2 separate regions of the Homo sapiens genome follow, and region 2 is linked to region 1. Evidence: fine-mapped expression QTL. A gene starts in region 1. The other region holds a variant in brackets. All regions are shown on one strand. Distances are between the middles of the regions.

The links.
Region 2: its variant is fine-mapped to the expression of IGSF1 in thyroid (GTEx, PIP above 0.99).

What each region holds. Positions count from the first base shown.
Region 1 is chrX:131,287,994-131,290,911 of GRCh38, reverse strand. It overlaps IGSF1 (immunoglobulin superfamily member 1), which reads left to right and starts at 1,606. Exons shown (of 20, transcript NM_001555.5): 1 at 1,606-1,698. RefSeq lists an enhancer at 1-127.
Region 2 is chrX:131,177,579-131,180,496 of GRCh38, reverse strand. No RefSeq gene overlaps it. Among named protein-coding and RNA genes, the nearest start is that of IGSF1, 110 kb to the left of the region's middle. The variant T/C (reference allele first, on the strand shown) is at 1,203.

The DNA of each region.
Region 1 (2,918 bases):
TGAGGCTTGGAGGCTAAATAACTTGCCCAGAAACACATCTTTTTATTCATATGCCTATTCTATTCATTACACAATAATCTATAGTTTATAATGGAAGCCACAATTGATATCACCTGATGCATGAAGATATGATAATCAATTTGGCTGTAAAAGAGCTGTTACTTTATTTTTACACAGTTTGTTCTTGAATTAAAGTGTTTTTCATTAGATAATTTGAAATCTTTTATGCAGGTAGAAAATGTACATAAAAGGCTGGGCATGGTAGCTCACGCCTGTAATCCCAGCAGTTTAGGAGGCTGAGCCTCCAGACCAGCTTGGCCAACATGGTGGGACCCCGTCTCTACTAAAAAATACAAAAACTAGCTGGGTGTGGTGGTGCGCGCCTATAATCCTAGCTACTCGGGAGGCTGAAGCAGGAGAATTGCTTGAACCTGGGAGGTGGAGGTTGCAGTGAGCCAAGATCGCACCACTGCACGCCAGCCTGGGCGACAGAGTGAGACTGTCTTAAAAAAAAGGAAATGTACATAAAGAAAAATTTGTCTATTTTTTAGCCAATTAGTCTATCATGTTGATATTTCTTATCAATTAGTCTGTGAGCCCATTGGATGCTATACTTTAATCTCATCATATGTTATATATCAGGAGCTTTGATTAGTGTCTTATTCATACATTATCATTATAAAAAGTCTTTCATAATCAACATTTGTGAAAGGTTGCTCTATATTATTAAAATCATGTTACTCTAAGACATTTGGGGAAGGGCTTACAGATTAATAGTAGTAGTAGTAGTGGTAGCAGCAGCAACCACTACCATTTATTGAGCACCTACTACATGCTAGGCCTATTGTGCTGTTAGTTTTACTTACATCATCCCATTGAGGCCTTGTGAAATAGGTTCTGCTGTTTTTTGTTTGTTTGTTTGTTTTTTACTTTACTGTTGGGGAACCTGGGACTCAGAGAGTTTACTCACTTGCTTGAGGTCACACAACTATTGAATGTAAAATGTGGACTAAAATATACATTTGTATGTCTCTAAAGCCTGGGCTTTTACCCCAAGATGGACTTTGAAGGCTGTCCAAGTTACTTAACCCTCTCTGAGTTTCCGTTTCCTCATCTGTAAAACTGAGGGGAGTAACACTTATTTTGCAGAGTTGCTCTGAAGATGAGAAATAATGGATCCCAGGGCCCAGGGGCACACAGTAGGCACTTAAACTGTGGTGATGTTTATGCATAAATGGGGCGTTAAAATGGGCAGGGGAAGATCTGAGATCCCGATAAAGGTATTGGGGAGCTGGAGAGAAGGATCTACAAATCTTCTTGAGAGCTGGCCTTCTCCCCCCCACAATACAGTGACCCAGTGAAACTCTGAGAGACAGGCGAGGGGGCAGGGGCCTGAATTTGGCTCCAGCAACCTCTGCAGGGAGTCCGGAGAGAGGCGGGGAGCTGGGAGGGGCGTAGAAATCCCCGTCGTCAGAGGACTGCAGGTGCCAGGCAGAGTTGGTGTAGGTGGGCTCCCCGAGCCCGGCGCAGGGAGGGGAGGAGGTTGGGGCGGGCCGGCAGGCGGGCGGGGGAGAGAGGAAGGCGGGGCTCAGAGCCGAAGAGGCTGTCCTTAGACAGCTCTTCTCATGCCGGGCAGTTTGCTGCATCTGGAGGAGCTCACTGGAGAATCTCCAACATCGGAGCGGGCCTTCAACTACCGTAAGTACCTACAAATGAGCGCATAGTTCAGTGGCTGAATATTAAATACTGGCCACCGGATCCTAAACAAAACCCCGAAAGAGTCTCCTTGCTGTAATTAATTGCCGTAAATCAAACTGCTCCCCAGTCTGTCCCCCCACCCGCTTCATTCCTGCCTTTCTCCTTTCCTTCCCGGATCCCAGACCTGCCTCGGTGAGAATCTCTGGGCACTGTAGATATCTCCCCTTTTCCTTCTCAGTCTTCCCTCCAAACCCTCAGCTGAGCATGTACCCGGCACCCCGCCGAGCCCAACCCCTTTGATTCCTGGAGCCCTCAAAGCTATGCAGGGGGCGAGCCATTAGACATTTCAGATATGTCACCCTCAAAAGCACTGCGGCGCTGCCTAAGGGTGGGGAAAGTGCTTGGGGTGGAGTAGGAGGGAAGGGTAAAACGGCTAGGCAGCCAAAGTTGGGGGTGGGGGTGGGGTGAAAGGCCAAAATGGGCGTGGCCAACTAACCCAAGGCTTGGGGCTGTTCTCATGTTCCCCCGGTATAAGATTCATCATCTGGGCTGAATATAAATGGTACAATTTCCTTAGTGATTGAGGAGGGGTCAGCCATGCCAAAAAGCCCAGCTTCCCTGACTCCCCTCAATCCCCCAGTAGGCAAAGATCCTGGTTTAGGGGTCCAAGTGGCAAGGCTGAAACCTCAGATGGCATTTCCTGGGTGTAATCCCAGGTTGAACCTCTCCCTTGGCAGTGGAACCTGGCTTCCCCCAAAAACTCCTGGCCCAAAGCCCCAGGGTAACAAAGCAACAGGGTAGCATCCAAGCTTTGGCCTGGCCCTGAGAGGAGTGGGAGCAAGGGACTGTAGGAACTGAGATGGAAAGGGCATCTTTAGGGCCCTACACCAGTTGGATGCCCCCTTTGAAAAGAAGAAAAAATAAGCATCTTTTTAAAATGTAATGTTCACTATGTGCCTGGCACTGTACATGTATTATCTCTAACCCAACACAACAATAATGTTAGGTCGATATTACTCCTCCACTTTACAGATAAGGAAAATTCAGAGTGGGTAATCTGAAAATCCTTTGATACAAAGTGAAAAATGTACAATGGACCTATGCTTCCTTGGATTTCTCACTGTCCACTTGTTCCCTACAGTCCAGATATTTTGAACACGAAATATCCTCCTCTTCCTGCTCCTCCATCCTACCCAGTGTTAGCACTGGGGCAAGTTTGA
Region 2 (2,918 bases), 110 kb after region 1:
CTTCCCCAGGTCCTTTTGCAGCCTATTAAAATCTCATTCACAGGTTTTCCAAGGTATAAACAAATTCATTGTTGTCTTCTATGGCATCATCAAACCTATGCTCCACACCACCTCTACAACTTGCATCAAAGATGTGAAAAGTCCCTTTAGGAAGCAGGTGATTTTGACTCATACACCAAGACATATTGCATGAAGCTCATGTATATCTGGGAAACCAAGCATCAGATAATTCACTTCTGTACAAACAGACACCTACAACCCCTCAGCACCACGCCAAACACTTTCAGGACTCAAGACATGGTCCTAGCTCTTAAGGAAGATGCAATCTAGTTGGCAGTGGGGAGAGGAAGGAAATATAAGTATACAAGTAATAATATAAAAACAAAAATATCAGCAGAATATAGTAAGTGCTACATACTTACTCTACAGAGAAAGAGAAAGAATTCACTTCACATTGATAAGGTGGGTTCATGTGAAGCTTCAGGAAGAAGTTGACAACATTGGAAGTGATATTTTCAGCATAAGAATTCAGAGACTTGGATAGGAGGATAAAGCAGTGGAGGGTCACTCTAGGTGAGGGTAACAGAAGAAACAGAAGCATGGACTGGCAAAGAGAATGATACAAAAAGGGAGAGAGATCTCCTTTGAGCAGAGAAGGAATGTCAGGATGATTGAGAAGAGAGGATAGAAAACATAGCACTTATCCCAGCCAGGAATTGTCATTTTGGGAACTCTGGAGCCAGACTTCCTGGATTCAAATCCTGGCTCTGCCACTTAACTGGCTGTGTCACCTTAGGCAAGCTGTATAATTTCTCTGGGTCTCCATTCTCCAACCATAAAATGGAGAAAATAATGGTACCTATACCTTATACAGTTATTTTTGAAGATATAAGAAGTTAAACCACGGGAAGTAGTTGGAACAGTGTAAGCATGCAATAAACGTTAGCTATTATCATTGTTCTCTTTAATTTTCCCATCACTTAATAGAGAGAACTTCTCTATGTAACTCACCATTTCTGACTTCTGTTTATACTTACAACTACTTGGGACACATAGCATGAGACCAGCCTATGTTCAAAGTATATATGAATATATGTGATTAAATGAGTGAATGAGTAATGAATGTATGAATGAATTGCACTGGGATCCTTTTTATATTAGAGTCCCTGATGTAAAATCTATACTAAAGCCAAGATTCTTCC[T/C]GTGCAGCATATGCTTCTGTTCAACATATGCTGACTTCAGATATGTGTGTTTCCATTTATCCAGTCTTTGGGAGGCAGTGCTGGGGCTGGATGTGTACAGGATTCATGAATGCAGCCAGGGATGAGAGAACAGAAAACAGACCAATGAATAGGAGAACTAGGTTTGAATCCTGGTTCTGCTATGATCTTGAGCAAGCCATTCTACTTATAAGCCTCAGGTTTGTCATATCGAAAATGGGAATGATTCATGATGCCTACCTTTCAGAATTCTGGTAAGAATCAAAAGACATAAATCAGGTGACAGTTCTTGGCATTCCAAATGAGTTTTCTTCCCAGTTTAATGTACTGATAACTGATATTAAAACAGGCTTGCTGATTTTCCTGGAGTTTGACATACAGTAGGTACAGGGACACTAAATCACCACAGAAGCAGGCAGGGTAAGGATTTTCTGGTGGACACTCAGACACTTCAGACAACTGAGAACAGTGACTGCTTTCCATATTGCTTTCTACACAGTCGCCAGCCTGTTATGGCCTGAAGCTATTTGTGACTCAGTGCTGTGCTTCAGCCTGTTATTTTCTCAGTACCTGGCAGGCGATAGGGGATCAATAATGTTTGTCGAGTTACAGATCCAGTCTTCCACCACTCATATCATTCTCTCTCTCTCTCTCTCTCTCTCTCTCTCTCTCTCTCTCTCCTCCCAGCCTGCCCCCTGCTCCATTCATACATTCATTCAACAAATACTGCCTACCAATTGAGTGTCAGGCCCTCTGCTAGGCTCTGACAGGCACTGCTGTAGTGCTGATTGCTTTCTCATTCTATTTCCAGTCTCTGTCACTCAACCTCTTCACCCCATCACATACACATGCACTGTTTCTTACATTATTGCTGTGATGTTATACTCCTTTTATCCTTTCCCTTTTTCTGTATCTCCATCTGCCCCAGCCCAGTCAATGACTAACCCACTTCAGATCTGCTCAGCCCACAAGCCCTCAGTTTCTGGCCTCTTATCCCTTTTCTGAGCCCCACCTAGTCCCCAGAGACAGCTCCCCTCCTGGAGGAATTGGCACAGACATCTCAAGGGCAGGTCTGCCCGAAGCCCAGACAAGCAGGTGACTTCCCAGTAGCCCTTCCTGAAGGCCACCTCTTAAACTTCTAGAGTCTCTAGGGAAACACCAGGAACTTCCAGAAAGGTCCTTTCTACTCCCACTTCCCACTTATGTCCCAGATATGCCTTGTCTGACTTGCACCTCCCCATCTGGAATTTCCTGGTTCCCCTGGGAGGTGCTCAAACTATTGTTTTATTCATAGTTTCACTCAACCAAAATTTTGTATGCACTTACTTCTCTCAAGATTTTTTCCATGCATTATCTCATTTAATCCCCAAAACAACCCATGAGGTATTAATATTGTCTCCATTTACCAATGAGGAAACCTAGGCTCAGAGAGATGACATGACTGTCCCAAGGTCTCACATCTAGTGTGTGGCAGAGTAGATTCAGAAATTTGAATCTCCTCCTTACTAAGTATGTCTCTCCTCCAGCCCTCACTCATCAGTGGACACCATGTTATGAAATTGAGTGACAAACACACAGTGGTTAGTGGCTGAAGAAACAATGCCAGTTTTTATGTTCTAGAGATCTTGCATTTACAAATGTCAATCTGATTTCTCTTCTTGAATGCCTTACAAAAATCTCAAACTCAAATATCACAAA